Linked DNA regions of Homo sapiens. The protein of the gene in region 1 purifies or fractionates together with the protein of each later gene. This does not show direct contact. Each region holds a gene or a part of one and is shown on either strand. Other genes may lie near its edges.

Region 1 (3,748 bases):
AAGACAGGCCCTGGGGCAGTAGTGGGTGGAGACTGGACCTCAACGCCTAGAGGGAAGTGAAAGGGTTAACCACCCCGCCACCCACCACCACCTGCCACTGGGCCCCTCTAGCCAGCTCACCCCAGAGCACTGTAAGCCCAGGCTTGTCTTTGGTGCTCTCTCAATTTCATCTTCCCTCTTATTCCTCCTTCCCACTCCTTCTGGGAGACACTGGGAGGAGAAGCTAGGGGCCATTGGCACCAGCTGTCTCTGGGGTGTCATTTAATACTGTCCGTAATCACCACCTCCTCTCCTGGCTTATTAACTCTTTCCCTCATGGCTACTCTTGTCATCCCTGGACATCTCTCTATCTCTGTCTAGCTCTCACCACACACACACACACACACACACACACACACACACACACACACACACACACACACAGTGAATGGGAAGAGGGAAGGGCTAGGAACTAGGCACACTCTGGTTTCTTGCCACTGCAGTTCCTTTCCCACCTGACTTCACCCCCGAAAACTAGTCCCACCACCAGCTGGGCCAGGAGCAGGAGACAGGCTGGTTCAAGGAGCTGGAGGAACAGAGGACACTTCTGAACCAGCAGAGCAATCACACAACAGCAAGCTCAGAGAAAGAGAATCCCAGAGGGCAGATTTGAGGATGGACACAGGGAATACAAAATTAGAAACTGCCCAAAGATATAGATTCCTCCTCCAAACAAAATAGAGTCACCAGAGTCCGAGTGAGGACTAGAACACTCTGATCATGTATGCGTTTCATAGCCTAGATGGGAAAAGGGAATAGAGGCCTTTTCCCCTGGCAACTCAAGGAGATTCTGCTTCTGAAAGTGTTTCCTGAACTTCAGGATGCTCTGAAGAAGTAAGGAGCCGTATCAATCACTGTTGAGTTCATTGGCAGGAAATAGACCACAGTCAGGGTGAGGGGCTGGGAGCCTCAGACCTGCCACCTGCCAACTACAGGGTCTTGGGTTTCATGGTTGTGAGATTATAATGACCACACATCCACAGGACACTTCTATCTCAAATATCCAGTGCTTCTGTCAGACGAGGTGCCATGATTTGGAGAAGTGAAAAGGTGGGGAAACCGAAGCAGGAGGATCGCTTGAACCCAGGAGTTGGAGTCCATCCTGGGCCACACAGCAAGATATTGTCTCTATTTTCTTTTTAAAAAATAAATTTTAAAAATAAAGAAAATAAAGTATGGTCCTTTCATGCAATGCCCAGCATGTGTCAGTCCTTCCACAGCATCTTTTTCTTTTTCTTTCTTTTTTTTTTTTTTTTTTTTTGAGATGGAGTTTCACTCTGTTGCCCAGGCTGGAGTGCAGTAGTGCTGTCTTGGCTCACTGCAACCTCCACCTCCCAGGTTCAAGCGATTCTCCCGCCTCAGCCTCCCAAGTAGCTGGGACTACAGGCGCCCGTCACCATGCCCAGCTAATTTTTGTATTTTTAGTAGAGTCGGGGTTTCACCATATTGGCCAGGCTGGTCTCCATCTCCCGACCTTGTGATCCGCCCGCCTCGGCCTCCCAAAGTGTTGGGATTACAGGCGTGAGCCATCGCGCCTGGCCCCACAGCATCTATTTTAGCAGCCACCGCAAGGGCTGGGTGACCCTGGTGTAGCCGGGAGTGGGCTTATTTGCAGGTGAACTGGGAGGGTGCCCCCACCTGAGTCTTAGGTCATAGGAGAAGTGCGGGTCAGGCCTCAGCTGCCTATCCCTGGAGCAAAGGCAAAGTCCAGGATAGCCTTCCAGTATCACCTTCCACCAGGCAGGCCAGCCGGTCCTCTGAGAGATAAGGCTCACACTTTGGACTCCACACAGCGACGGGGCCCCCTGCCCCTCCAGCTGGCAGGCGGGCTCCCTGCCTGCTTAGGGGTCTAGGCCGAGGCAGGGGGAGGACCGGACGGCCGGCCACTCGCCGCGACCAGCAGGAGAGAGGGGTGCCTGCCACAGGTTGTCACCCTCGCCGCCTCCCCCGGCGGCGCCCCGCCCCTTACTCAGCCCTCATTACTGCAGCGCCTCGCGGGGGTCTGGCCCGGAGTGGAGGGCGCGCGGTCCCAGCCCTCCCGCTCGGCCGGCGGGTGTCGAGTTCAGGTGCGACCGAAAAGGGGAAAGGAGGGCACCGCCACGTGAGCTGTCCTCTCCGGGGAAGGCGGTGGCTGCGTGAGGGCGGGGGCTGCTCGGTCCCCAGGGCCCCGCCCCTCTGCCCCTCTGCCCCGAGCGGTGCTGGCGGTAGGGAGGGGCCAGCCCGGTCCCCGCCCTCCTCGCCCGGACCCGCGCTGCCCGGCTCCCGCGGGCCGCTCGATCCCAGTCCCAGGCTGGGCATCGGGGCTGGCTGGCATCGCCGGGGAGCCGACGGCGACGGGGAGCCCCGCGGGCGGGGAGGGCGGCGCAGGGCAGCGGGTGCGGTGACACCTGTGGGCACAGGTGAGCGGCGGGAGGGCTACGCGGCCCGGGGGCGGGGCGGCCGGGACCCGGGGCCTGGAAGCCGGGGCGAAGGGGAAGGAAGGCCTGGCCTCCCGAAGGCGGGAGGAGGGGAGCCGGGGGCTGGGCTGAGACAGGACCCTGGGTAGGGAGCAGTGCGAGGGAGACAGCGCCCTCAGAGGGAGGACTATTGGGAGGCGGCAGGAGGGACAGCGAACGTTTCCTCCTCTGCTCCTGAATCGGAGGAAGGTAAGGGAGGGCTGAGGCAGGACCTCAGGCCCACCCGGTCGGGGCACAAACACCTGCGCAGCCTTCTTGAGCCCACCGCCCCTTAGGAGGCCTCTCCTCTTCCAGGCCCTGCCCACTCGAGGGCGGGCCCTCCCTCCAGGTTTAGGGGGGAGGGATGGAGCCCCACGCCTGGCCCCCAGCTCCATGGTGGTATTCCCAGAGTCTGGGGAGGACCAAATATATAGCCCGAAACTGGAGAAACTCTAATTCTATTTGGCTGGTCTCTAAGGGCAGTGGCCGGACAGCTGGCCCCACTCACCTCCCTGTCTGTGGTCAGGAGGGTTCAGGTAGGAGATGGGCAAGCCTTTCAGTAAAGGCCAGACAGTAAAGATTAGAGACTTCGCGGCCTACACCGTCTGTCCCAACTAGCAAGAAGCAGTCACAGGTTATTAGGAGACCAGCAGAAGAGGATGGATTCCAACAAAACTGTGTTTATGGACACTGAATTTGAATATCATGTAATATTTACTTGTCCCAAAATATTGGTGGCTTTTTTGCAGGGGGGGCAGCAGTTGTTTCAACTATGTAAATATGTAAAGGCTTACAGGCTGTACAAAAACTGGTGGCAGACTGGGCTGTCTCCAGCCACCCCCACTCCCAGCCCACCCCACCCACCATGGCCTCCCTCCAGCTTTTTCCCAAGCTTTATATGGGGAAGGGGATGGGGTTATATCTAGGTGCAAGGAGAACCCTCCCACCTGGGTGTATCCAGAAAGCCCGAGACCTGTCTGTGACCCTTGTTCCCATTTGAGACCAGTGCAGGAGCTTGTACCCCAAATATGCACACATGTGAGAGAGGAGGTACATCTCCAAGGGGCTTCCTACCCAATATGTACCTGGACCTACCCTACTCCCACCAAGTCATAGATGAGGCAGCCATGTTCCCCCCAACAAGTGACCAAGCCCTTGGCCCTCTCCTCCCCCACTATACCCTCCCTCCCAGGCCCCCTACCAGCCTTGGTCTCCCGCCTGGTGCCATTCACTGATTGGGGATGGCCCTTCCATTCCTCTTTTCTCTCTTGCAG
Region 2 (3,748 bases), on another chromosome or scaffold:
CAGCAACCAGCAGAGAGAGAGTATTCATGCCCAGGACAGCCCAAGCCCAGTGCCAGGCTCTGAGCACTGCCCTCAAAGCCCCTCACCATCGTTTTGATTTCCTAGGTCCTTGCCTGTCCACCATGCCTCTGAGATCCAGGAACAGCGTGTTTACCCATTTTACAGATGAGGCAACTGAGGCCTGGGCCAACACCAGGTCTCGAGGTCACTGCATCATGCTCAGCACCCTGGGCTATGTTCCTGGGCTGGGACAAACTGCCTTCACAAGATTTCAGCACAGCCCTTGGCTCTGTGCTTCACAACTGGGGGAAGAGCGGGGCTCAGACGTTTGGAGAACCCGGTGTCAGGCAGCCAGGGAAGGAGGTGTGACAACCATTCAAGACCACAGGCAAGACTGCAGCAGGGGTCTAATGGTCTGGGCTCTTGGGGCCTGGCCATCACCTTCCTGCAGCCGCCCAGCTCTGTGCTGTAACAGTGGAGCCATGGTCAGTGTAGGAACAGCCAGCTCCTGGAGCCACTGGTCTTGTCCCACCGTTTGCTTGGTTGCATCATTTTGAGGACAGGCCCCCCAGGTCCTTGCTGAATTGCAGGTGGGTGAGCAGAAGGGCAGAGACCTATGGTGACCCTGAGCTCTGTGCCAGTCCTTCCCAGCCTGAGGCCAAGTGGGCACCCACCCGAGTTTCCTGTGCTGTTCCGGGTTGACACAGGCCCAATGCAGCAGGCGTTACAACCAACCCAAACATCAGTGGCCGAAGCAAAAACAGGATACTCAGGCCCAGGGACTCTCCCTCTCTGCTAACTGACCTCAGCCTGATATGGGTGGAAGGGTCTTCCCTGGTGGCCCAAATGCCTGGTTCCTGTCCTTGCAAGTATGGACAAGCCACCTCCCTCTCTGAACTTCAGCTTTCTCAACTGGAAAATGGAGCTCTGAAAACCTGCCTTACAGAGTTTTCATAAAGACTAACAGAAAAGTGCATCTAAAGTGCCCTTTAGGGACACCAAGCCCAGTGTCAGCACAAGCAGCTGCCAGGCATCTGCTGCACCTGCCGGGTGCAGACCCCTGGGGGCAGGACCCCTGGGAGGCTGTCTGACTCCTTGTGGGCCACAATTCTAGACCCATCTCGGTCCCTGTCTTGCTGAATGACCCCAGGCTGGTGGCTTCCCCTCTCTGAGCCTCAGTTTCCAAATGATGACGGAGTTAGACCGGATGGTCATTATGGGTCCTCCTGCCAGGACATTCTCCAATTCATTCATTCTCAGTCTTCTCCCAGTCCTCACCCACAAGGACCAAGGACCACCCCCTCGGTAGCTGCAGGCTCCATGAGGACCTGGTCTTAGTCTTGGCGGAAAGCCCTCTCCATAGCCATCCGTTTCAATTCAAGCATCCTGGGTGACCTTTGAGTTGGAAATCTCTCTCTCTGCTCATCCTGGAGAGGGGTTATTTTCCTTGGAGTGTCCTTGGATGATCCCAGAACCAAGGCTTGCTTCTGTGGGCAGCCTTCCATCCCATCTCCACCATATAATAGCCGCCACCATTCAGCAGAATCCCAGCAGACTGTGCAGTGGGGCAAGGATTTCATGAGCATCCTCCTCTAAACGCGTGAGTGGCGTGCTCCCCCCAGTGGCACCACACGTGGTGGTCTTTGGAAGGCTTTGGGGGCAAGAGGCAGAGGGGTGGGATTGCTTGGGTTAGCTAATATTTTGAATACAGCAGAGATAATCAATATATCTCTAAATGTGCTCTAAATGGCAAGTTCGTGATGAGTACTCACTAAAGATTCCATTTCCCTCTGGGCAATTCTTACTCCTGTTCTTCCCATGACTGTCCAGGTGTCAAGACAAATGGCAAATCAGAGTAAATTTAGAGATCTATAGATTATATTAAAATAAGTGTCAAACTAATGAACAATGCAGGGTCATGAGGTGGTCTCCATTGATTTGTTCATACTTATATTCAACAAAGATTTATTCGTTTACTGTACTGTACTAGGTGCAGGCTTTTTACTGGCGCCTGAGGATTCGACAGTGAAATAAGTCACAGTCCTTCCTCTAAGGAGTTCACAGCCTGGTAGGAAAGGTGGTCAAATCATCAGGGAAGTGTTATCCAAGACCTTGATCAGGATAATGAAGGCAGCAAGGTGGGACTCCTCCAACCTAGAATCTGGGAAGGGGCCTACAGTAGGCTTCACAGAGGGCATGATGTAGGAATTGACCTAAGTGGAAAAGTAAAGAAGAAGAAAAATATTTTAGGCAGAGAAGACAGCGTATGAAAAGGAACTTTGTGTCAAGAGTATGGGCTTGGAGTCAAGTCTGACTTTTCAAATCCCAGCTCCTCTGCTCACTGACTGTGTGTCTCCGGGCAAGTTGCTGTAGCTTTCTGACCTTGGCTGCCCATTTGTAAAATAGGAAATAACCACATCTATCTTAATGGAATGCTAAATGTTAAGAGTGATGGGAACTCACTGAAGAGTCCATTTCCCTCTGGGCAATTCTCACTCCTGTTCTTCCCATGACTGTCCAGGTGTCAAGACAAAAGATGCTTCAGCTTTGGAAACTTGTTCTCCTGTGCGGCGTGCTCACTGGGACCTCAGAGTCTCTTCTTGACAATCTTGGCAATGACCTAAGCAATGTCGTGGATAAGCTGGAACCTGTTCTTCACGAGGGACTTGAGACAGTTGACAATACTCTTAAAGGTAAATCAACAAGGGTGATGAACAGTGTCACCTAAATTAGCCTCCTAAACACTATGCCTGCATTACCAGAGGCTGCCACCAGGGGCTACTCTTTATGGGCGGTTTACTGAGAAAAGTGGCTATTCAATTCCTGACTCATTCGTTTATCTTTCTAGAAACAAGCAATGCCACAATGAATAGCCTTTTACATATTATATCCTGATAAACGTGCATAAGATAAATTCCTACAAGTGGGATTTCAAAAGTTCAAAAACTATGCTGTTGACAAATAATCTCCTATGTTAACACTTTCTCCAACAGTCTACGAAAGTGCCTTTTTTCCCACTCCTTTTCCAGCACTGGGTATGGACAACTTTAAATATTCTGCCTGTCTCACAGATGAAAAGCTATAACTTATTTCACTTTGCATTCCTCTAATTATGAAGGAGCCCTCTTCTTTTTTCATATATTTACTATGTACTTACATATTTTAACTTGAGGATTTTGTCTATATTCTTAGCATATTTTTCTTTTGGGTTGTTTAATATTCTTTTATGGACTTGTGTTAATTCAGTGAAAATTAAGGAAATTATCCCTACCTAGCCTTGGTATCTGTAAAGCTACCTACCTTTATATTTATTTATACCTCCTTTTTATGCTAACCTATTAAAATAACTTGGCTTTCTTTTTGTTTTATGGAAACATTAGCAGCACATCAAAAACAGTTTTTGTAGGAGGAGGTAACTTCTGCAAATGGCTGCCTTTCAAACCTTGTCAAGGGCTTAGGTAACTTTCAAAGATGCAGAAAGGACTCACACTCTAATTTCACAGCTGAGAAAACTGAGGCCCAGAGACAGAAATGTCTAAACCAAAGTCACCTCGTGAATTATACGATTAGACGTAGTTATATCACCAATTTTATTTAAAGTGTCATTCTCTGAATCATTATAACTAGGTAGATATTGTCCATTACAGAGCCAAGTTACAATATTATGATTACATCTCTTTTCTTATACGGTATAGTCTTTTGTTTTTCCTTAAGTTAGTAATTGCCCTGTTGTTTCTCACTTGAATTA

Evidence for each region.
Region 2: the proteins of PLEKHG6 (region 1) and BPIFA2 purify together in Homo sapiens (affinity purification with mass spectrometry; 2 studies listed by BioGRID and IntAct, with this or other methods). This does not show direct contact.

Annotation. Positions count from the first base shown.
Region 1 is NC_000012.12:6,308,411-6,312,158, forward strand, and holds the start of PLEKHG6 (pleckstrin homology domain-containing family G member 6), read left to right. Parts: upstream 1-2,271; 5' UTR 2,272-2,438; intron 2,439-2,589; exon of another isoform or gene 2,590-2,684; intron 2,685-3,748. UniProt on the Homo sapiens protein: Guanine nucleotide exchange factor activating the small GTPase RHOA, which, in turn, induces myosin filament formation. Also activates RHOG. Does not activate RAC1, or to a much lower extent than RHOA and RHOG.
Region 2 is NC_000020.11:33,166,610-33,170,357, forward strand, and holds the start of BPIFA2 (BPI fold-containing family A member 2 precursor), read left to right. Parts: upstream 1-1,549; 5' UTR 1,550-1,600; intron 1,601-2,521; 5' UTR 2,522-2,536; coding exon 2,537-2,693; intron 2,694-3,748. UniProt on the Homo sapiens protein: Has strong antibacterial activity against P.aeruginosa.